Linked DNA regions of Homo sapiens. The protein of the gene in region 1 purifies or fractionates together with the protein of each later gene. This does not show direct contact. Each region holds a gene or a part of one and is shown in the gene's direction. Other genes may lie near its edges. The genes, in order: DNAJC6, PPP6R3, CLINT1, BMP2K, PIK3C2A, DLD and CLTCL1.

Region 1 (3,500 bases):
GCAGGACAGGCTCCAATAGATATCCCTCCAGACAACCCCAGGCATTACGGACAAAGTGGTTTCTTTGCCTCTCTCTGTTGGCAAGGTATTTACAAGTGTTTCTTTAAGTCACATGGTTTGATGATTATGTATTTCTTCTGTAAAGATGTTGGCCCTAGAAGCAGACTACATTAAAGCAGCACTTAGAGGTCATTCAATCCAGGCACACGGACTCCCACCTGTAAGCCCAGCACTTTGGAAGGCCAGGATAGGAAGGCCAGGAGTTCAAGACCAGCTCAGGCAATATAGTGAGACCCTATCTCAACAAAAAATTTTAAAAAATTAGGTGGGAGTGGTGGCAAATGCCTGTAGTCCTAGCTATGTCAGAGGCTAAGGCAGGAAGACTGCTTGAGCCCAGGAGTTCAAGGTTGCAGTGAGCTATGATTGCGCCACTGCACTGCATTCTGGGTGACAGAGCAAAACTCCATCTCTAAAAAATTTTTTAAAAGACATCATTCAAGTTTACATCCTTCCAATTCATTCCCTTTTCAAATCAGGCAACTTCCCTACTTTCAACTCAGTAGATGCTCTTAGACTGATGCAAAAGGCCATTTTAAACTGAATTCTCCCTTCTCTCTGCTGTGTTTTTGGTCACGTCATTCCTGGACTGACAAATAAGTGTGATTTGTTTATGATCTCCCTTTAGACTGCTGCCTCTGTAATGAGATTAACACAGGATTCTATCTTCCGCTGTCAACTAAATATTATAAAAATATCAAATCAGCATTCCCCCCAGGGAGCCTTAACCACTAGCAGGGCAGAACTGAGCTTACCCTGCTGCAGAGAAAGCAAACACTTGGCCTGTATATCTCTGCTCTTGCTTTAACAGCCATACCAGAAATAAGGGCTCGATTACTAGGTTCTTTTCTCTCAAACCTGGAGATATTTTCAGAATCCTCCTCAATATAACACTTCCAGCTGCTGCCAGCAGTAGCCTGACGTTGGCATCCTAATCAATACCCATTGGCTATCCTTGCTTTAGAGCTGGCTGAGGCTAACTGTGAGATTCAGTGTAGACGTGGGTAGTCAGTGTTTGGGTATGAAAGGCATGGGAAACTGGCTATGGTATGGTTTATCTGAAATTATCCTGATTGACCTTCCTCTGTTGTGTGAATGTAAGATAATATTCCCATCGCCTGCAGGCTTCAGTTTGATGAAAAAGTTGTTCATAAAATTCCGTTGAATTGAAAGACTCACTTTCAGAATTTTCTTTCGAGAAATGGAACTAGCAAATCCTCAAATTTGGAAAACCCAGTGGTATCTGGACAGTAGGTAGATTTCTTATCCCCTGTTGGCCTTTCTTACCTCTTATTTTCCTCACAGCGAGGGCTTTTAATACAACTTCACTCTTTCCTCTCCACTGTCATTTTAGCAAATAATTTAGAGATAATTCCTGTAGACTCTGAAATAGGTTTTAGTATAGATGCACAGTCTCTTGTCTGAACCTCTCAGAGCCAGGTATGTTTAGGAATGCAGAACTTTTTGGATTTTAGAAGGATGATATGCTACATAAAGTGATGTAACTTGACATCCCAAGTGATATCTCAGATAATAACCTATAATCAAACATATTAATATTTCTGCAGTAGAACATATAAACAATAGCCCTAAGTGAGATAAATGAAGACTATAAGTATCTTCATATTCACGTCTGTCAGTTTTCCACCAACTGAATTCATGCCAAACTTAGGAAAATCTTTTCCTTTTCATAGCTTATTACATTTTATAATTTGGAATAAAGGATGTGGATCCATACTTGACTTGGAATGTGGGTCTATCTGGCATTAAATATCAAATTTTTGTGGGAAGATCTATCTCAGGGAGGGCTTAGAAGGTCACTCCTTCCCCAGAGGAGGCCTCTTTCCTGCTGCTCATTTTGTGCTGAAAGTACCCCTTTCAAGCTGGTATAAGGACCTTTCACAGCAGAGCTCTTCTTTTCACTTTTTAAATGTGTGGTTCACTTCTGCTCCAGACTGTTAGAGAAGGGATTTGCTTTTGGCTACAGGACACATGGAGAAGTAAAGACAGTGAGAAGTGTCAGCAAATGACTAGCAGATAATGGTTTGTACTACCCTCCCCGGCCAAAGCACCTAGCATAGTGCCTGAAAAAAAAAATCAACACTTAGGTACTACTTACTATTGATTGGAGTGATTTATAATATCATCTCATGTATTTCTCACAGTAGCCTGTGAGTTAGGTACTATTTATTTATTTAGACACAGTTTCACTCTGTAGCCCAGGCTGGAGTACAATGGCATGATCTTGGCTCATTGCAACCTCTACCTCCCGGGTTCAAGCAATTCTCATGCCTCAGCCTCCCGAGTAGCTGGGATTACAGGCACACGCCACCATGTGCAGCTAATTTTTGTATTATTAGTAGAGATGGGGTTTTCACCATGTTGGCCAAGCTGGTTTCAAACTCCTTACCTCAAGTGATCCTATCTCAGCCTCCTAAAGTGCTGGGATTACAGGTGTGAACCACCACGCCCGGCCGTTAGGTACAATTTGTTATCCCCACTTTGCTGAGGAGGAAACCAAGGCACAGAGAAGTAAAGTAACTTGCCCAGTGTCATAGAGCCAGTGAGTAGTGAAGCTGAGATTCAGTCCTAGGCTGGCTCCAGAGTTCCTGCTCCTTACCCCTATGCTCTACTGCCTCTCAGATGCTCAACAAGTGGTAGTTGAATGTAACGTGAAATACATCAAGTGTTCCACTGATTAGGGTCTAAAAACACTGTTTGCTCAGGGCTGAATCCTTCTGTCTTTCTGGAATTATATACATATATTATAACAAAAACCAACAATGCTGTGGTCAGCAACTAATCTCTTATGGTATACTGGCCTTCCTCAGATCAGAAATCGGAGAAGTCATTCTGTGAGGAGGACCACGCTGCCCTAGTGAATCAGGAAAGTGAGCAATCAGATGATGAACTTCTGACACTTTCCAGTCCGCATGGCAATGCCAATGGTGACAAGCCTCATGGAGTCAAGAAGCCCAGCAAAAAGCAGCAGGAGCCAGCAGCCCCTCCACCCCCTGAGGATGTGGACCTTTTGGGCCTGGAAGGGTCTGCAATGAGTAACAGCTTCTCTCCGCCAGCGGCTCCTCCCACCAATTCTGAACTACTGAGTGACCTGTTTGGGGGTGGAGGTGCAGCTGGTCCCACCCAGGCTGGACAGTCAGGAGTGGAAGATGTGTTTCATCCTAGTGGACCTGCGTCTACCCAGTCAACACCACGCCGCTCTGCCACCTCCACCTCTGCGTCTCCAACCCTAAGAGTGGGAGAAGGTAATTTTTTCTATGTTGCACTGTGCCTCTCAGATTTGAATTCTAACCTTTGGGCCAAATAGGTGGAATTGAACTTTCCTAATAAGCTAGACTTTTCTGATTTCACTGTAAGTCCTTTAGAGGAGGTCTGTATCTTTATTTAAATTGAGAGCGTAAGAGAAAATAGAAATATTGTCC
Region 2 (3,500 bases), on another chromosome or scaffold:
ATCAAAATGAAATTCTTACAATTTTTTTTTTTTTTTGAGATGGAGTCTGGCTCAGTCGCCCAGGCTGGAGTGCAGTGATCTTGGCTCACTGCAAGCTCCGCCTCCTGGGTTCACGCCATTCTCCTGCCTCAGCCTCCTGAGTAGCTGGGGCCACAGGCGCCCGCCACCACACCCAGCGATTTTTTTGTATTTTTAGTAGAGACGGGGTTTCACCGTGTTAGGATGGTCTTGATCTCCTGACCTCGTGATCCGCCCGCCTCGGCCTCCCAGAGTGCAGAGATTACAGGCATGAGCCACCACGCCTGGCCTCTTATAAATTTTTTTGAAAATTATAGAAAATTTACCACGCTAACTATTTGTGTTAGTTGCTTTGAAGAGAAAAAAGATACTCCCTTTCTCTTGGAGAAACGTACTCTTGTCTTTGTATGTTTGTTGTTGGTTTTTTACTAGATTCCATACCAGTTCTGGCATGTCAGATAAGCAGATAGCACGCCATTTAGGCTCTAAAGCAATACTTCACATCCCCATTTAGTCCTCGTTATTTATGAGGGATACCTTCCAAGACTCCTTTGGATGCCTGAAACCACAGCTATCGAACCCTATATATACTATGTGTTTTTCCTATACATACCTGTGACAAAGTTTAATTTATAAATTAAGCACAGGAAGAGATTAATAATAACTAATAATAAAGTAGAACAATTATAAATCTATACTGTAATGAATGTTATGTGAATGTCATCTCTTGGATTAGCATGTCTTACTGTATTATACTCACCTATTTTCAGATCATGGTTGACTGTGGGTAACTGAAACCACAGAAAATGAAACTGTGGTTATGCAAGTACTAATGTGAACTCAGGTTCCTTTTAATTGGTCCTTTTGGACTGAGAGCACATCATTTTTACTTTATTAAATCACTGTTCTGTAAATGTATTTAAGTATTGGCTTAAACATTGAGGTAACCGAATAAAACATGGTTTTTCTTTTTTGTAGAACATGTTCTTCAAGTATACATGGAATAACTTTTTGCATACACAAGTGGAAATTTGTATTGCACTGATTCTTGCAAGTCCTTTTGAAAACACAGAAAATGCCACAATTACCGATCAAGACTCCACTGGTGATAATTTGTTATTAAAACATGTAAGCTTATTTGGTCTCGTTTTTCTCCCACTCTCTCCTGGTTATAGCAGTTTTCCACTTGACTGTGATGTGAATTGAGGTTTAAAGGGCTTGAGGTTAGATTTCAGAGTCTAAATATTTGACAATCATGTGTTCGTTTCACTTTTAACATATAAATCATTATATAAATCAAGTACTGGACAAATAACTATTAAATGAACAGTCTTGTAAGAAAAAAGCTAAGTGGCCTCCTTATTTGGTAAAATTAATAGGTTTGAAGATATATAAATTCTTTGATGATTTGAAGAATCATAGAAATTTAAATACTATGGAAAACATTTGCACTATTATTTGGCTGACCAGAGTGTAGTTTCTTTGCTGAATACGTGACTGAAAGTCAGGAGAACTGAGTTCTTTGTGATGTTGAGAGTCTTCCTGGGGTCTCTTTTTCTCTTCTGTCAAATATGAGATAATTTTACTAAGTCAGTCTTCAGATTTTTTCTTGCTTGGTAGTTCTATGGTACTTTTAAAATTTCTAGCCCACACTTGGTTTACTCGCAAACCTAAAATGTAGAAAAGGCTAGCTTGGAACAGCCAAGTTGATGGGAAAGACAAATGACACCTGAGAAGAACTAGCCCTGCACATTCCAGTATTGCAGCCTACAGCAGTTGTCACTGACTTGCAGACTTTGGGCAAAACCCACCTGTTTTTAATATTAATGCAGTAATGTTAGTTCATCTGGAAGTAAGACGTGCTCACATTTTAAAAGTACAAGCATTACTTTGGATTCTAAGTTAAATTTTTGCCAAGGCATAGTTTTCTTTATTCCATTTTAATTTAGCTCAGGTTTTATATTTCTGTTCTGAATTTTCACAGCTAATAAAACCTGGCTTTCCTTTATAGTTAACTATAGGTAGTTAACTGCACTACCTATAATACTGAGTTTCCTGTAGATGTTCTGTGGAGGGTGTGGATCCTGATTTGAATCTCTGTAGTGTTGTGGGTGTCTGCAGTAGATTGATGATCACATTGCATTTGGCTTAGTAACATTTAGCTTGCTAGATTATGCATACTACTATTCTCTTTAACCTAGAGTTCTGTTTCACTTTAAAGTTTTGATGCTTTGAAGTATTAACTGGAATATTCTTTTTTTTTTTTTCAGCTTTTCCAAAAATGTCAATTAATAGAACGAATACTTGAAGCCTGGGAAATGAATGAGAAGAAACAGTAAGTAAATTGTTTTTTTGAAAGGAATTCAGTTTGGTTGGTAATATGAGGAAAATAATACCTCCTTGCCCTAGTCAGAAAAAAATGGAAATAATTACATGATACTGGCCATTTTACAATTTAAACTTTTCCCCAGATTATTTCATTGTAACAGTTGTTTTTATAATACTAATAATTTCTTGTTAGGTCCTCTTGTTTTTGGGGCAAAACAAGTGAGTTCGGAGTGTTCCCCACCTCTGTGCTGCCTTTGAAACTTCCTGGTCCTTTTTGAATGGCTACTGTTCTAAGAGTTATAAGGTTAAAGTTAAGTCCTTGATGATGTGACTTAGTGTATTTGTCCTGGTCACCTTATGCTCAGAACAGAAGGTATCACGTACATATTTTCATTGTAGAGAAGAGTTGCTTTGTACAGGGACCTAGAGGAAAAAAATTGCTCAGTGTTTTCTTTTTAGAAAATGTTTGTTAGCTGATTGGCAAGGTTATGTGAAGTATTAGTTGATACATGTAAGTAGCTTTGTTACACAAAACGTTTTCTTACAGGTGTTGTCTGTAACAGCATTCCTCTCTAGTGCCCTGGAAGCCTTTATGTCACCCCGTAGATTCTGAAGCATGGTGGCATAAGGGCGTGTTTGGGAAACACTCTGAAGGCATGCTTCTGTGTTTGTTTTTAAGACAGGTTTATTGAGATATAATTCTCATATGGTAAAGCTCATTTTAGGTGTACATTCCTAGGAATTCTGACTGATGCCTGAAGTCACCATCACCACAATCAAGACATTTCTGTCACCCCCAAAATTTCTCTCATGGTCCTTTGTAGTTGATCATTTCCCAGCATTCTTGTTATGTGTCTCTGTGTCTCCAGGAAAGCTAGATGACTCTTGGGAGTCAGCCTTACTTTGTGAGGTTTGATTTTTTTTTTTTAAATCGTTTAATAAGCACTGCTACTAGGGTTTTGATTTGGCTTCATGTGGGAAATTGGCATTTTGTTTGTTTGTTTGTGGCAAGGGGCTAGTATTGGTAGACCTCAGATACATTCTTCCAAATGGAGCTCTTTGGAGATGCTGTTTGTGGCCCAGTTGACATCTCTGGTTATATGTCTGACTCCGTCTTGGCTTCTCTGTGTCCTTCCCAACCTCCAGTCTTCTTG
Region 3 (3,500 bases), on another chromosome or scaffold:
ATAGAGATGATATTTTATAGGATTATGAGGATTAAATGTGAAACAGTATAGTACTTGACATACAGTAAACTCTTGAAACATCTATTACTGTTATTACTGTTACACACAAAACAGTATAACACTAGAAAAATCAAAGGAATACAGTGTTTGTGAAAATAGAGATATCATTGTCAGACTAGGTTATTTGTAAGTATGTAGGAACTATATCTTCATCCATGAAATCATTATTTTCAGTGAGTACTCTCTCTTAAGACTCAGTTTAGCCTACATATAGGACAGCTAATTTAAATACCTCTGTTGTTTATGCCTTGTATTATTTTTGCTAAATCATAAATGGCTTCTACTTTAATATTGCAAAGCATATTGCAGAAATACCCTTTCAAAAGACATGTTGAGGAATAAAGTCTTTGGAAAGACATATCGCGAATTCCATCTGCCAATTCTTAATATTTTGTTCAGCTTGTTTTGTGTATTCTCAAGATTTTAAAGTAACTGCTAATGTAAAACATTACTAAAACATAAAAAGATTTATTTCATAAATGCAAATTGAAGCAGACAATTTATTCTTAAGAGACTGAACAATATCAAGAAAAAGAATCCTCTAAAATATGTGATACCAAATTCATGGTGTTTGACAATGGACAAACAGTATATACAAGGAAAGCACATTGGAGAAAGGGCTTTCTGGTTATTCAACCCCTCAAATTGGCAAGAAATTATTTGGCTTACCAGGGCTCTTTTGCCTGAAAATTAAATACAGGTAAAGGAACGTAATATATTCCTATGTTTGAGCCAATTTATAGCTACTTATTACTTGTGGATAGATTTAGCTAACGAATTATTAAATGTGAGTGATTTTGTTAATGTGCAACAGTGCACATGAATGGTTTGTACTTCATTTAAGAAGAGTCTAGTTAGCCAATTTTAGAATATTTCATTTCTTTTTTTTTTTTTTTTTTGAGACGGGGTCTTGCTCTGTCACTCAGGCTGGAGTGTAATGGTGCCATCTCTGCTTCAGCCTCCTAGGTTTAAGCGATCCTCCCAAGTAGCTTAAGCGATCCTCCCAAGTAGCTGGGACGACAGACACATGTCACAACACCCAGCTAATTTTTGTATTTTGGTAGAAATGGAGTTTTGCCGCATTTCCCAGGCTGGTCTCGAACTCCTGAGCTCAAGCAATCTACCCACCGTGGCCTCCCAAAATGCTGGAATTGCAGGTGTGAGCCACTGTGCCTGGCCTAGAATATTTGTTTTGACATGAATTTTATTTAGCTTCTCAATTCTTAGGACAGTATTTAAGTTCTAGATAACTTTAATATAAATAATCTTTTATAATTTTGCACACACTCATCATTATGTGGTAAACGTACATGCGTGCTTTTTCAACAACTATTGAATGAAATGTTTCATTCAAGAATTCTCATTCAAATAGCTTATATTTTTATAGTAGAAAAAAGGCATGCATTGAAAATTCAATTTTCGGGTTTTTTGTTTGTTTGTTTGTTTGCCATTTGTTTTCATGCATTTTTAGTAAATCATTAAAGAACAGTGCAAGGCCAGGTGCCGTGGCTCACAACTGTAATCCCAACACTTTGGGAGGCCGAGAAGGGAAGATCTCTTGAGCCCAGTAGTCCAAGACTAGCCTGGGCAACACAGACCTTGTCTCTACAAAAAAATTAAAAAATTAGCCGGACATGGTGATGCATGCCTATAGTCCCAGCTACATGGGAGGCTGAAATGGGAGGATCACTTGAACCCAGGAGTTGAAAGCTGCAGTGAGCTGTGATTGTGCCACTGCACTCTAGCCTGGGCAACAGAGTGAAACTTTGTCTCTAAAAAAATTTTTTTTAATATTAAAAAAAAGAACAATGCTAATAGGCATACTGAGCCTTTTTCTATTAATTTTTCTCATACTAATTTTTCATTTATCACTTTTTAAAGTGACTTAGGTTATACGGTTGAAACTACATGTCTTAATTTGTAGTTAAACCCCCATGGTTAAATAATTTTTTTTTTTTTTTTTTTTTTTTTTTGAGACAGGGTCTCACTTGTACCCAGGCTGGAGCGCAGTGGCATGCACGATCTTGACTCACTGCAGCCTTGACCTCCTGGGCTCAATCCATCCTCCCACCTTAGTCCCCCAAGTAAGAGGGACTACAGGTGCTTACCACCATGCCCGGCTAATTTTTTGTAGAGATAGGGTTTCATCATGCTCCCCAGGCTGGGCTCAAACTCTTGAGCTCAGGCAATCCGCCCGCCTCAAGCCTCCCAAAGTGCTAGGATTATAGGCGTGAGCCACTGTGCCCAGCCAGTAATATCCTTAGTTTGATGTATTTGGCTTATAAGTTCGGTACTGAATGGGGCTTTGAAGGATGGCCTGTTTCTCACTAAGCATGTAAAATGTTTAGCCCTGTCATCTGCTGTCCACTCAGCAGCGAGAGGGATTCTTTAAAAATACTAAGTCAAATGGGTTCAGAATTCTCCAGTGGCTTCTCATCTCATTGCTTAATTGCCTGTACAGATCTGGCTCTTTGTTGCCCCGCCTGTGATCTCTTCTCCCACCACTGTCCCTCACTTTCTCTGTTCTGTTCAGTGGACCTCCTGTATTACATAGTATGCACTCACACTCGTCACTATTTTTTTCTGTGCTTGCCTTCCTCTGTTACATGTATTCATCTCCTGCCTCTGATATGCAAGTTCCTTGAGGGCAGGAACTTTGTTTTGTTTACTGCTGTATTACTAACTCTTAGAACAATTATGACACATAGTAGGCGCTCAAATATTTTTGAATGAATACATTAAATTTGGTAAGTTGATATTTATTACAGAGGATATCCTTTAAATCCAGATATTTCTAATAATAAAAGCTAATAGTTATTGAGCATTTGCCATGTGCCAAGAACAAAGGTGACAACATTGTTATGTTCAATTTTCTTATGAGGAAATTGGGCACAGAATGCCAAGAGTGTGCCACAGATAGCACATCTAGAAGATAGTCTAGATTTAAATCTAGATGATATACTTTCAGAATATGTATTTAGCAGTTTATGCTAATCTTTTACAAGACATCATGTAAACAAAAAAATTGTTATACAGGCATACCTCAGAGATATTACAGGTTTAGTTCCAAACCACTGCAATAAAGTGAATATTGGAATAAAGCAAGTCATACAAATTTTTAGTTTCCCAGTTCATATAAAAGTTATGTTTCCACTATGTGGTAGTCTATTAAATGCACAATGGTATTATGTTTAAAAAAGTACATACCTTAATTTAAAAATATCTTATTGCTAAAAAGTACAGCCATCTGAGCTTTCAGCAGGTATTTATCATTCTGCTGGTGGAAAATCTTGCCTCCATGTTGATGGCTGCTGACTTATCAGGGTTGTGGGATTGCTGAAGTTTGGGGTGGCTGTGGCAATTTCTTAAAATAACAATGAAGTTTTCTGCATCATAGATTCTTCCTTTCACAGATGATTTCTCTGTAGCATGCAATGCTG
Region 4 (3,500 bases), on another chromosome or scaffold:
GAAGTGCTAGATGAAGGAATAAGGAAGAGAGGTTTGAGCTAAACTTTAAAGAATAAGAATTTCACTAGGTGGAAAGTGGCATTCTAGACAGAGAATTATATTGGTACTAATACATACTCATGATAGTACATGATATTGTTGAGCAGTGTAGAACAAACTAACATGGATGTTGTGTTCATGGAGAGCCGAAGTATGAAACATGAAGTGTTTCTAAGATGTTGACTTGTTCAGAGTTGTAGACGACAAAATTAAGCTTCTTCGGTACTTACAATTAAAGTAAATCCCTATAAACTCTATGCATATGGAAGTTTTTGTGTTATAAATAAGGATATAAATGCCTTAGTTAAATTATTATTGAAATGAGCATGTTGAAATCCAGCTTTTTAATTGAAATCATTAGTATGTTAATGTAAGTGTTTGGACCTGTCTTTAGGGGCACTAAGACCTGGAAATGGCCCTGAAATTTTATTGGGTCAGGGACCTCCTCAGCAGCCGCCACAGCAGCATAGAGTACTCCAGCAACTACAGCAGGGAGATTGGAGATTACAGCAACTCCATTTACAGCATCGTCATCCTCACCAGCAGCAGCAGCAGCAGCAGCAGCAACAGCAACAGCAGCAGCAGCAACAGCAACAGCAGCAGCAGCAGCAGCAGCAGCAGCACCACCACCACCACCACCACCACCTACTTCAAGATGCTTATATGCAGCAGGTAATTTTTTTGTTTCTTTAGATATGGAAGTAGTGTGAAATTGATGCAGCAAATTGAATATCAGTGAATTCCTTTTTGTATCATGGGCACCTTGAACTCTAGATTTGAGTAAACACTTTCCCCAATTTTCTAATTATGAAAGAATACGTATTTAATTTGCAATCAGTGAAATACTTAAGAATACTGTAAAATAGGTTGCATTGTGGCCTTATGAAGAAAAGAATGTTCATCTGAAACATTTAGTATTCACAAATAAGCACTGCAGTTTATAATGAATATTATCTGAGGTTACGTTTTGAGTTCACAGACTAATAATGCTATTGTTGGAAAGGTGATATTAGGCTTTTCAGAAGTAACATTGTCTTAGATTTTTGTCACCCTCCTGGTTTTGGTTGATAGATCCAGAGTGGAGGGTAGTAAGTAGGTGGTACCATGGGATGCCCAGAAGACACCACTGAAGGGGAGATTTAGTGTAATGGGGCTTGGTTAGAAGTCACTCAGGTGTCTTTATCTTCTAGGAAAAGGTAGTAAATGTGTTTTGGTAGCTTTCTTCTAAACATCCTTAAATTGTGCTAAAAATGGTTTTAATTGAATCTAATTGTTGATAATTTTGAAACCAGTTCTGATAAGCATATTTATTAATAAATTATAGTAATTTAGAGTATAGCTATTTTGTATTGATGTTTGGACTACTGATTTCTCAAATCATTATGGTAAGATCAATACTTTAAAAAAGGGCTCTGACACAAAAAAGGCATAACATTTATTAATTTGATTTTCTCGTTGTAGTATCAACATGCAACACAGCAGCAACAGATGCTTCAACAACAATTTTTAATGCATTCGGTATATCAACCACAACCTTCTGCATCACAGTATCCTACAATGGTAACTTAAATAATTTCTAGAGATTTCTCTGAGTATACATTATGGTGTTGGAATTCACAGTATGAATCATATTATTCAGAATTTAGTAATTCAAAATCAAGTAAGTTAATTGACATGTATTTTATCAAAGCCAGTCATATATTCTCAAGCAGCTTTAAATTGCACTGAACTATGGCACCTGAATATGGCACATAGTAATTGACCGATAACGTACTTCTCTTATGTCATTATATAAGGGAAATGATGTCTTACCTATAGTCTTTCGTCACATGTCTCTTTCATTCAGCACATATCTATTGAGTAAAAAAATGAAACCCAAAGGGAGAGTATATTTTCTTCAGAGAATAATTTGACCTTTTTTTTTTTTTTTTTTTTTTTTTTAACAGCAACCACTATATTAGTGACTTTAAGCTACTCTTTTTCTTAAAATACTTAAAAGAGGATTTTTGATTCTGGCCAAGTGAGCCTACCTTTACAACTTTTTAAAAAGATTTATTTCATCTTGCTGTAGTTTTCTAGTAATAGAGCTGCTTCTGTAGATGATTGTTTTTTACGTTTCTGATTTTGTCACCAATGTGAAAGGAAGGAACATAGTAAATAGATGCAGTGCTGACAGTGCTTTAGGACTGGAGCATTGTTTTGTATAATATCATTTCTTTTTTCAGATGCCGCAGTATCAGCAGGCTTTCTTTCAACAGCAGATGCTAGCTCAACATCAGCCGTCTCAACAACAGGCATCACCTGAATATCTTACCTCCCCTCAAGAGTTCTCACCAGCCTTAGTTTCCTACACTTCATCACTTCCAGCTCAGGTTGGAACCATAATGGACTCCTCCTATAGTGCCAATAGGCAAGTATTTTTCCAGTGAAAGCAAAGGAAATTATTGTGGAAGTGGAAGTCATCGTTGAATGGTCGGTCATTAAGTTCTCTTAAATTAGTTTAGAATTTATCTTTCTGTAGAGCCACCCATTCTCTCTTCCTAGTCCTGTCTTCTGGTCCCTTGGCATCCCCATCCTTCCGTTTCCTCAGTTAATTCTGCTAACTGCTATTTGTAGGTAAGGTGTAGCAACATCTAACAGCATTTAGGGCTAAGGATATTATTGGCTTGTATGTAAAGGCATTTTTGGTAATGTAAGTATAAACAACACCCTAACAAGTGACTTCAGCAGTTAAAAAAAAATCCTTGTAGACTTTCTCTATTTACATGTTATTACCTTTGATTAATTTTACTGTTTACTCATAAAGGTTGTATAATTTAATTTAAATAGGTATAAACATTTTTACATATATGTATTTTAAGATGATATATAGTATACATACTGTTACCGTAACATAGTTGGTAATAGTATATTTTGGCTATTGAGACATATTGGTTAGTAGCGTTATAAATTAAATAACTTTGGTACAAAATTTCTTAAACTTATACAAAATGGCACGTGCTTTAGCATCTTGTAACTAAGAATCATCATCAATGCCTCCTAATGTTTTTAGATACCTAGGAGGTAGGAGCTGTTAGACTTCTGTTACATGAACACTGAAGTTCTCATACAATGCTGTTTAAGGATTTGAAACATTAGCTGAGAAAAGGTGTCTATAAGCTTTGGCTCAGAGTTGAGCAGGAGAAACAGCAGCATCAGTAGCATACTTGTACACTGCATCTCAAAAGAGAGCTAAAGTATGCAGTTTGCTATAGAATGCCTCCCAACCTCTGTGTGTGTGTGTGTGTGTGTGTGTGTGTGTGTGTGTGTGTGTGTGTATGCATGCATGCATGTGTGTGCACATGTGCAAGAGACAGATGGTGGGGCGGGTATGGTAGAGAGGGAGACAGAAACGAATGGATTTCTTGAACTACTTTTCTAAAGTAAGAATTGGGGTGGATGAATTAGGACAATTTTGTCTA
Region 5 (3,500 bases), on another chromosome or scaffold:
CTGAGAGAAATAGATTATCCCAGCTAAGCTGATATTACCATTCCAGATGCAATGTAGTCATCATCTTAAGCAAGTTGAGGTTTCTGGGTAGGTGGGTTATTTACTGTCCAAAGCTCCAAGACTGGGATTCGGAACCCAAGAACTTACATGCTTTTTATCTATGTTGTACATACTCAAACCGAACTCTTTATTTATTATTATTTTTACCAATATGTTGCCAAAGCCAAAGGACTCTTCTGCATTTTTTTTTTAATCACTGAGACAGAAAGCTCACAAGAATCCTATGAGGCCAGAGTATGACCCATCCCTATTTTACAGTTGAGGAAACTGAGATGTAAAGAAGTTAAAAGGAATTACTGTTAATATTTTGGTGTAATAATGGTATTGCAATTAATTAAATGAATCTTATATTTAGAGATGTATACTGTAGAATTTAAAATGTAGTAAAATCAAGTGAGGTATTGGGGTTTGGAGGGCTTATAGATGAAACAAGATTGGCTATATGTTGATAATTGTTGAAGCCGATGATGGATACCTGGGTGTTTATTCTATTATTTACTTTGTGTATATTTGAAAATTTTCATGATAACAAGTTGGAGGTCAAGGAGAGGGCTGCAGAACTCTTTGCAAGCAGCAAAGTTCTGACATTCAAACCCATCTGACTCTAAAAGCCCTCCCTTTTTTTTTTTTTTTTTTTTTTTTTTCACTTTTTTGAGACAGTTTCTCTCTTGTTGCCCAGGCTGGAGTGCAATTGCGTGATCTCAGCTCACCGCAACCTCTGCCTGCTGGGTTCAAGCGATTCTATTGCCTCAGCCTCCCGAGTAGCTGGGATTACAGTCATGCACCACCACGACCGGCTAATTTTGTATTTTTAGTAGAGACGCGGTTTCTCCATGTTGGTCAGATTGGTCTCAAACTCCCGACCTCAGGTGATCTGCCTGCCTCAGCCTTCCAACGTGCTGGGATTACAGGCGTGAGCCACCAAGGTCTGCCAGCCCTCCCTTTTTCAAACTCCAGTGATACAACATGCTATTTTGGAAGGAGTAAGTTCCCTGTCATAGGAGATATTCAAATATGGTTCAAATGGCTTCCCAAATTTAGTTATATGTCACAGTATCCTAGAGAGTTTAGGCCTACTCAGTCCTGATTTGGAGGAAGGGGTGTCAAAGGACAGTATGGAATTTCAGGGGGAAGATAACCAGTTTTTTCAAAACTTTCCCCCTTGGACCTCCATTTGGGACCTCTTGACTAGGTTATTTTAAAGTTTATTCATACTCAGGAGCCTATAAAGTTGGGAAAATGACAAGACAAATAGCAAATGTGAAAATAGAGTACCCTGGGAACAGTTTCTTTTCAGCTCAAAACCCAAAGCACAGGTTGTTAATGCTTTCATTGCGAAACTCAACTTCCTGCCCCTGCTTGACCTTTTTAGTTTAGATTGGTCACTCCTAGTTCAACACATGTGTTCTCCACCCTTTCCTTTGGTGGGGCAGGGGTGTGACACCCATGTAAGTCTCCCTACATTTATTTTTTCTTATGTATTTAAAATATTTGTCACAGTACCATCTTGATATTTTCCTTATTTGGGGTGCTTTCAGAAAGTATCTTGGAGGAATAATGAGGATGGGTGGTTTCCTAAAGATAGGAAGAAGTTTGCCTAGCAAGATCTGGGTAATCAAGTCACATAGGTGTTACAGAGAGCTGCTAGTTGCTCAAACTCTAGGAATTAATTAACTAGGCTGCCAAACAGGATTAGTTTTAGCAGAAACAAGTTCCTAGATCTTAGTTAAAAAATATAGGGGAAGGATTAAAGTAGTAAGCAAATGGATTATGAGAGATATGAGTCAGAAACTGGGTAAGCAATAATATGACTTGATCAGGGGATCAATCAGAGAGTGGAGCTAGATTACTACAGTGTAGCATATCAACAGCTTTACTGATAGCATGCTATCTGAACTGACATGGCTTAGGCTACTTGCCAGTCTTAAGGCAGTCTAACTGCAGCATGGCTGAGGAAGTGTTCATCATTCCATTATACTCTAATCAAACCCCATCTAATAATTTTGTTTGAGTATATCCTAAGAGGGGCCACCAGTAAGGAAACTGAAGTTTGTCTTTTTTTTTTTTTTTTTTAAGACAGGGTCTCACACTGTTTTACCTAGGGTGGAGTGCAGCAGTGCGATCACGGCTCACTGTAGCCTCTACCTCCCATACTCAAGTGATTCTTCTAATGCAGCCTCCTGAGTGGCTGGGACTATAGGTACACGCCACCACACCCAGCTAATTTTTTTGGGTTTTGTGAAGATGAGGTCTCCCTGTGGTGTAAGCCATTGTGCCCAGCCTAGAGTATGTCTTGAAAAGAGAAGACTGTAGTTTTCAGGATCTAGAACGTATGCCATTTGAGGAACTGTTGGAGGCATTTTGTCTGAAGAAGAGAATATTAATTGGAGTTAAATCACTGAATCTGAGTTTCTTTATCTATGAAATAAAGTTGGCTAGACTAGATCCTTTCATAAATAATAGTTAAAATTTGGGAAGTTGCCATGTGGAAGAGGAAGTGGACTTTTTTTTTTTTTTTAAGGTTTTGTATTTTGGACATACATTTTCAAACCAATTCAGGAAGTAGAATACCTGAAAGTCATGGTGCTCTTATAAAACAGGATGAAATGTTGATATACTAATTTTTTCAGTACGTTAAATATATTAAGTATACTACTTTGTGTTACATTAGATGACAATCTGTGCTAGATTATAATAGAAACAACTGGTAGAATGGTGGGTTTGGTGGCTCATGCCTGTAAACCCAGTGCTTTGGGAGGCCGAGGTGGGAGGATTGCTTGAGGCCAAGAATTCGAGACCAATCTGGGGAATGTAGGGAGACCCGTGTCTATAGAAAAAAAAAATAGCTGTGTGTGGTGATGCACGCTGGGACTACAGCTATTCTGTAGTCCCAGCTACTCAAGAAGCTGCAGTAGGAGGATCTCAAGCCCAGGAGTTTGAGGCTGCAATGAGCTATGATGATAAGGCCCTTGTACTCCAGCCAAGGCTACAGAATGAGACCCTGTGTCTAAAAAACAAAGGAATAACTGATAGTAAGGGCTGAAAGTTAAAATACATTGCATAGAAAAACTTAAAATTAAACAAGTCCTATTTGTTTGTTTGTTTTTGTTTGTTTTTTTGAAACAGGGTCTCGCTCTGTCACCCAGGCTCTGGAGTGCAGTGGCGTGATCTCGGCACACTGCAACCTCCACCTCCCAGGTTCAAGTGATTCTCCTGGCTCAGCTTCCCGAGTAGCTGGGACTACAGGTGCATGCCACCATGCCCTGCTAATTTTTGTATTTTTAGTAGAGTTGGGGTTACACCATGTTGACTAGGCTGGTCTCGAGCTCCTGACCTCAAGTGATCCACCCGCCTCAGTCCCCCCAAGTGCTGGGATTATAGGCGTGGCCACCGTGCCTGGCCAAACAAGTCCTATTTGTTTATATATTTTTTTCTGTGAA
Region 6 (3,500 bases), on another chromosome or scaffold:
CCTGTCAGTACCAAGGATATTGATTATTTGCAATGTACTGTTTTGACATTTACTGAATTCACCCATATGGATTATAAGTAACATTGGATGTCTTAAAGCTTCAGTTATAGAAATCATTATCTGGGCAAACTGTGACTATCAGTCTCCCTGCATTCTGTGAAGTAATTTAATCCTGTATCCTCAACTGTTATCCAACCATTATCATTTTGGATATTTTATTTCTAGAGGAAGGGTAGGGGGAGGATTCTAGTAACCCATGACTAACAGTGAGTGAGTGATTTATTCTAGCTTTGAACAGGTCAAGAAATCCTTTTAAAAAAATGCTAATATGATGATGAAGGGAAAAGTTGGACCTCTTATACACTTTGTCTCTTGTTAAATAGGAATCTCATTCTTCTCAACTCATATAACAGGAGAAATGTTAGATTTTCATTTCTAAAGGATATTTTTCATGGCTAACTCTATACCTTTGGCATCACTCAGCAGAGATTATTCAGTGCCTTCTATTTGCCAGGCAGACCCTGAGCCAGAACTTAGATTTTAGTGGAATGAGGCTGAGTGTTCCATAATCAGTTTGGTGATCCCTTGACATTGAGTAAATCATAAATCACTTAGTACCCATGTGTGTAAAGTGTGTAAAAGCTTTGAGTGGATGCAGTAACAAGCATTTTACACACATACTTGTATTTTATCTGAGGTACATGCTTACTGTCTTTTCCTCAGGAATGCAAACTTCATCAGGACAGGGACTGTGTGTGACTGTTTTGTTTAGTATCTAAAGTGATACAGTAGGTAATCAGTACATATTTATTGAATGAATGAACACTGGGGCCTGGTCTGTTTTAATTACTGCTCTGTGGCAAAGCATCCAGTATGGTGTCTTGTACAAAGTAAGTAACCAGCTACAACAGCAATAATATTAACTGATGCATTGAGGGCTTCACTCTGTCTCAGGCACAGATTTAATCCTCATGGCCTTTCTACTACCTGTGTGCTGCTGTTCTCCCCATTTTATAGATGGAAGAGTTAGGTTTTTTAACTAGGAAATGACAGAGCTGGGAGAATCCTTTTGACTTCAGAGCCTACACTGTTAATGTTTTATTGAGTTTTCTTCCTTACATGAGTATTGATTGACTCTCCTGAGGAGTTCAAATCTTATTATGATATAGTCTTGGTTACAACATCTGAGAGATGTCTGAATAGCCTTATGAACCAGGTTCATCAGAATTTGCAAAGTTGTGTGTGTTACTGTTGATGTGACGTTTTATTTCATGACAGCACTTAATCAAACTTGTAACACTTAAACTTACAGCACTTATATCACTCACATTCACTACATTCATTCATTCTTTTATTATTTCGACAAATACTAATATCTACTATGTGTTAGTCATTGGGCTAACTACTGGAGTACCGCAGTGAGCAAGACGGACAAGACCCAGCTTTTATAGAGCTTACAATTCAGTTGAGGGAGACAAACATCCAACATATAATTGTGACAGGGGTCCATAGACTTAAGCATAGGGAGTAATGACATCTATATATGGATTGGGAATGGTCACATAATTCTTTCCTAAGGAATTATGTTGATAGCTAAAAAGGTTGAGAGTAACTCTCGTTACAGGTTGGACCTTTTACTGTAATTCTTTTTTTTATTTAGACTGTAAGAAATAGGGCTATGTCATTTATATATACACACACACAGACACAGCATGTGCAGACACACCCCTCCAAGAGCCTAAAGTAGTGTTTGTAATGTGAAATGCCTGCTGTTAGTGTTTATTTCTAGGTAGATGGAACAGATCGTACATAGGTAGACCAGCATAATTCTATGCATGTAGGCTAAGAGTAGTAATTCACCGTTACTGAAGCTTAAACTGCATGGTATTGGTGAGTAAACAGAACGTGGTAGGAGATGAGGCTGGAGAAATAGTTACTGAAGGAATTTGGATGCTGTACTTAGGAACATGGGCTTTATCTAACAAGACACTGGAGAACCAACAGAGCGTAACAACAGAGAGAATAACATCTGAGTTGGGTTTTAGCTTTGCGGTAGCACTGGGTAGGCTAAAATGGAGGATGTGAATGAGGCTAGAGGCTGCTGGACTGAAGTTTGGAGGTGGATCTGAGAAGGGGAGTGACACTGAGTTGCTAGTATGCACCTAGCACCTCCTTAGGATCTTAACATGCGTACTCTCTGATCCTCACAACCCTAGGCTGCAGGTGTCATCCTTACTATTACCCCCATGTTGTATCAAAGCCCAGAGAGATTGAGTAATTTGCCCAAGAACTTAACGGGGTTAGAGTTTGGAACCCAGGTCTGTTTTACTTCAGATCATTTCTTATTTTACTATATTTCTTCTTTAGGGACCAGGAGGTTATGACTAGAAAGTAGAGTATTGATTTCAGAGGCTGAACAGTTTTGGGTGATAACAAGTATAGAGTGTTAACTATGGGAGGAGGTTACTGAAAAAGACTGGATATTAAGGCCATTGACAATGTAAAAACAACTTCCCTTACCCCTCAACAAAATGTCAACAAATAAACCTTATCAAGTAGTTCTTACATTCAGTAAATTTGGTAATTAATGATTATTGCCTTATGACATCTCTTTTCCTGTTCGTTTTTTCTTTTTAAAAATCTGGTTTTGTTTTTGTTTGTTTTTTTTTTTGAGACAAAGTCTCGCTCTTGTCCCCTAGGCTGGAGTGCAGTGGCGTGATCTTGGCTCACTGCAACTCCACCTCCCGGGTTCAAGTGATTCTCCTGCCTCAGCCTCCCGAGTAGCTGGGATTACAGGTGCCTGCCACCAGCCCGGCTAATTTTTGTATTTTTAGTAGAGATGGGGTTTCACCATGTTGGCCATGCTGGTCTCGAACTCCTGACCTCAGGGGATCCACCCACCTCGGCCTCCCAAAGTGTTGGAATTACAGGCATGAGCCACCGCGCCTGGCCAAAAATCTGATTTTACCTTTATTTTGACATGTGCCTCTTTTTTCTCACTGTGTTTTAAGGTTATTGAAGGTACTGATGAGTCATAAATATTTGATTTCATTCTGTAAAGCATATTCTTGTCATTTTAGTTGAAGTTCTTGATTGTCCTGGAGATTATGGGATCATCTGAGTGTTTTGGAAGGCAATAGAACATAATGGTATATAGGAGCACACATTTCAGAATCTAGAGGACCTTGTTTGAATCCTGGCTAGATTACTTACTAGTTGTGTAGCCTTATGCAAATTATTTAGTTGTTTTCAACCTTTTCTTCCTCTGTTAATGGTAGTATTAAACTATGTCATAGAAATGTAATGAGGCTTACATAAGACAGTACACGTGACTGGCTCACTAACTGGCACATTTTAAGCTACCCAAGTGGTAGGTATTATTGTAGACTGACTTTTTTTTTTTTTTTTTTTTTTGAAACTTGGTCTCACTCTATCATGCAAGCTGGGGTGCAATGGTGCGATCTTGGTTCACTGCAACTTCCACCTCCCGGGTTCAGGAG
Region 7 (3,500 bases), on another chromosome or scaffold:
CAGAGTTGGAAGGGACAGCAGATTCTGACTGGAGCCCTTTGTTTCATCGGCATCCAGGCCCGGGGAGGGGAAGTGACTCTGCCACTGTGCTGGAACTGAGGCTCCAGGCTGCCTGGCATTGGCCCTTTGTGCCATGCTTGGTGGTGGGCAGCAGGTTATTGGATAATCACAGGCACTCCGACAAGGGGGTTGTTCTGCTTTGGTTGAATGTGACTTTTAGCGTTAATCATCCAGTGTGTGGAGCTGAGGCTCCACTTGCCTCTGTGCCTTGACTAGCACTTGCCCACCACCACAGGCGGTCCCCTTGATTGACCTAAAATCTCTCTTCTAGTTGCACATCATTGAAGTTGGACAGCCTGCAGCGGGAAACCAACCTTTTGTAAAGAAAGCAGTAGATGTGTTTTTTCCTCCAGAGGCACAGAATGATTTTCCAGTGGCTATGCAGGTACGAATGTGCTGCTCTCTAAACATCTTCATGTCCTAAAATCTACTCTAGCACCTCCCAAGATACAGGAGGCTGCCATTTTTAGTCTGCTTCTGCTGTCTCCTGCCACTGTGATGCTTTCAAACCCATTTAGAGGCCTAAGGCTTTGGCGTGTGAGCTGGGAAAGCCCTGTTCGTAGAAAGGAATGCCCGGCATGAGGGTGAGTTAGGGCAGCAGGAAGACGTTGCCAAGTCACACATCAAAGTCCTCAGCTCTTTCCTTCTTATTATAAAAGATTAGATGTTCACTGTGGTATGAGAATATTTAAAGAATAAAATACCTAATGTAGGTGACGGGTTAATGGGTGCAACAAACCACCAGGGCACGTGTATACCTGTGTAACAAAACTGCACGTTCTGCACATGTAACCCAGAACTTATAATAATAAAAAAAAGAATAAAACACTTATTTCCTTTACAATTGGCTGCCATTGAGGGAGCCTAGAGCTCCCAGGGACAGTCCTTTGAGCTGGCATTCAGAATGGCCCAGCCTTTGACACGCAGCCTCTAGTGAAACTAGGTAGTCCCAAGCCCCTGGTGGGAGAATTATTCACCTTTACATCAAGAAGGTTGGGAAAACACCTGAACCTGCATGTGGCATGTGCCTAGCCAGACTTCGAGGAGTTCGTGCTATGAGACCTGAAGTTCTTGTGAGGTTCCCTAAAACAGAAACACATGTCAGCAGGGCCTGTGGTGGTTCCGTGTGTGCTAAGTGTGTTCGTGACAGGATCAAGTGTGCTTTCCTTATTGAGGAGCAGAATATTGTTGTGGAAGTGTCAAAGGCACAGAGTCAGAAAACATTCCTCTGTAGATAAACCAGTTGGATGTAAAATATATAAGAAATCTTGGCCGGGCGCGTTGGCTCACACCTGTCATCTTAGCACTTTGGGAGGCCGAGGCGGGCAGATTGCCTGAGCTCAGGAGTTCGACGCCAGCCTGGGCAACATGGTGAAACCCCGTCTCTACTAAAATATAAAAAATTAACTGGGCATGGCGGTGTGCACCTGTAGTCCCAGCTACATGGGATGCTGAGGCAGGAGAATTTCTAGAACCCAGGAGGCAGAGAGTGCAGTGAGGCAAGATCACACCACTGCATGCCACTGCACCGCGGCCTGGAGCAAGACTTCATTTCCAAAAAATAAATAAATAAATAAATAAGAATAAAAATAAAAAATCTTACAATTTGTTTTATAAAAAATTTAGATCTATACCTTTTCTGAACAAAATTGGCATCACATTATATATGTAAGATTATATAATCTACTCTCCTTTTTACTCTTTTGTTCTCATAAAATATATGTTATCTGTACATTTCTAATAATATCAATAAATGTAACAGCAGGATTAAATATCACCTGAAATCCTAGCACTGCTGATAATTTGGCTACCCCTTTGGAAGTAACTTAACATGCATACATTTGTGCAGATTTATACAGATGGACTCTTATGAAAATGGCTCTGCACTAGCCTTGCTGCTGTATAAACTCCTCTAGCTATGTTGTAGATCATTCTGTTCCAGTAACATAATGTATGTATTTTATTGTCTGTGTCATCTGTTCTGTGGATTTGCTACAACTCATTTAAACAATCCCCTGTTGATTGGTATTTACATTTACAAGAAACACTATAAGGAACATTGTGCTCCATACATCTTTGTATGTTAGTCTAAAAGTCCGAGGATAAATTCCTAGAAATTAAACTGCTGGGTCAGGGGCACACTCTCATCACAGACTCTCCTGACCATGCTGGCCAGTTCACATTCCTACTGATGCTGCCGGTGGTAGCTGGACAGCATCCCATGTTGTGATGTCTTTCCCTTGGTTACCATCAAGGCAGAATTGATGTATCAGCCACTCATATGTATCCGGTTAATTGCCTTTTCCTAATCTTTGCATTTTTTTTCTATTGGGATCTTTTTTTAAAAAGTAGAGATGGGGTCTTGCTATGTTGCCTAGGCCAGTCTTGAACTCCTGGCCTCGAGCGATCTTCCTGCCTCAGCCTCCCAAGCAGCTGGGGTTACAGGTGTGTGTCACTGTGCCCAACTCCAGGATTTTTACCTTATTCGTAAGAGCTTTTTGTACTTGTAGAGTACTAAGTGTCTGATGTATTTTGAATATTTTTCCCAGTCGTAATTTGTGATATGTGGCACCTTATGGAAGTGCTGCATTTTTGTGTGGCAGTGGTATCATGTTTTGAGACTAATTCTGCACCTGAAGATGATCACAACATTTACCTATATTTTCTTTCATTCCTATCCTAATTGTCCTTGTTTTTTATTTAAAATCTTTGACCCATCTGGAATTTACTTTGATCTAAAGAGTAAGATAGAAATTCAGTTCTTTACTCTTACCTCCATCTCCAGATAGCTAGCTAACTATATTAATAATATATGTTATATATTGATTAAAGTGCCTATTTTCCACTAATATGTTACCTACTAATTATTTATTTTTCTAGAGTTGGAGTCTTGCTACGTTGCCCAGGTTTGACTCAAACTCCTGGGCTCAAGTGATCCTCCTGCCTTGGCTTCCCAAGTAGCTGGGACTATAGTCATTAGCCACCACACACTCATTCTTAATAAATTCTCATATATGATTCATTCTCTTTCAGGGCTCTTAATTATTTTCTCTCTCTGTCTCTTCCAGTGGTAAAATCATACTTCAAAAATTACTGTCTGTTTTAATATATATGTTTAATAATCTGGTTGGGCAAATGCATCTGTTTTTTCTCCCCAGCCCCTTCAGGTTTTCTTGTGTGTTAAATATTTTTCTGTAAAAGTTAATAGCATTTGGCAAAACTCAAAGGTTAATAAGTGGTGGTAGAAGGCATGCTGGAACATCATCTTGGCGTTTGAGGTCTTTGTCCAGAACTTTCCCCTTCTCTTATGAACTCACAGCTTGCTTAAAGGGGTTCGATAAACTGTGAAAGGATCGCTCTACCTGAAAGATAAATGGAGTAGCCTGAGTTTATTGGACCTTTATTTGAGAGTGGTTGGACAAAATATTGTCTTTAAAACT

Evidence for each region.
Region 2: the proteins of DNAJC6 (region 1) and PPP6R3 purify together in Homo sapiens (affinity purification with mass spectrometry, with the first as the bait; one large-scale study listed by BioGRID). This does not show direct contact.
Region 3: the proteins of DNAJC6 (region 1) and CLINT1 purify together in Homo sapiens (affinity purification with mass spectrometry; one large-scale study listed by BioGRID and IntAct). This does not show direct contact.
Region 4: the proteins of DNAJC6 (region 1) and BMP2K purify together in Homo sapiens (affinity purification with mass spectrometry; one large-scale study listed by BioGRID and IntAct). This does not show direct contact.
Region 5: the proteins of DNAJC6 (region 1) and PIK3C2A purify together in Homo sapiens (affinity purification with mass spectrometry; one large-scale study listed by BioGRID and IntAct). This does not show direct contact.
Region 6: the proteins of DNAJC6 (region 1) and DLD purify together in Homo sapiens (affinity purification with mass spectrometry, with the first as the bait; one large-scale study listed by BioGRID). This does not show direct contact.
Region 7: the proteins of DNAJC6 (region 1) and CLTCL1 purify together in Homo sapiens (affinity purification with mass spectrometry; one large-scale study listed by BioGRID and IntAct). This does not show direct contact.

What each region holds. Positions count from the first base shown.
Region 1 is NC_000001.11:65,389,543-65,393,042, forward strand, and holds part of DNAJC6 (auxilin), read left to right. Parts: intron 1-4; coding exon 5-85; intron 86-2,888; coding exon 2,889-3,323; intron 3,324-3,500. UniProt on the Homo sapiens protein: May act as a protein phosphatase and/or a lipid phosphatase.
Region 2 is NC_000011.10:68,568,752-68,572,251, forward strand, and holds part of PPP6R3 (serine/threonine-protein phosphatase 6 regulatory subunit 3), read left to right. Parts: intron 1-996; coding exon 997-1,146; intron 1,147-2,288; coding exon 2,289-2,353; intron 2,354-3,500.
Region 3 is NC_000005.10:157,849,146-157,852,645, reverse strand, and holds part of CLINT1 (clathrin interactor 1), read left to right. Parts: intron 1-3,500. UniProt on the Homo sapiens protein: Binds to membranes enriched in phosphatidylinositol 4,5-bisphosphate (PtdIns(4,5)P2). May have a role in transport via clathrin-coated vesicles from the trans-Golgi network to endosomes. Stimulates clathrin assembly.
Region 4 is NC_000004.12:78,870,350-78,873,849, forward strand, and holds part of BMP2K (BMP-2-inducible protein kinase), read left to right. Parts: intron 1-433; coding exon 434-711; intron 712-1,500; coding exon 1,501-1,599; intron 1,600-2,264; coding exon 2,265-2,449; intron 2,450-3,500. UniProt on the Homo sapiens protein: May be involved in osteoblast differentiation.
Region 5 is NC_000011.10:17,162,987-17,166,486, reverse strand, and holds part of PIK3C2A (phosphatidylinositol 4-phosphate 3-kinase C2 domain-containing subunit alpha), read left to right. Parts: intron 1-3,500.
Region 6 is NC_000007.14:107,894,183-107,897,682, forward strand, and holds part of DLD (dihydrolipoyl dehydrogenase, mitochondrial isoform 1 precursor), read left to right. Parts: intron 1-3,500. UniProt on the Homo sapiens protein: Lipoamide dehydrogenase is a component of the glycine cleavage system as well as an E3 component of three alpha-ketoacid dehydrogenase complexes (pyruvate-, alpha-ketoglutarate-, and branched-chain amino acid-dehydrogenase complex).
Region 7 is NC_000022.11:19,236,220-19,239,719, reverse strand, and holds part of CLTCL1 (clathrin heavy chain 2), read left to right. Parts: intron 1-331; coding exon 332-445; intron 446-3,500. UniProt on the Homo sapiens protein: Clathrin is the major protein of the polyhedral coat of coated pits and vesicles. Two different adapter protein complexes link the clathrin lattice either to the plasma membrane or to the trans-Golgi network.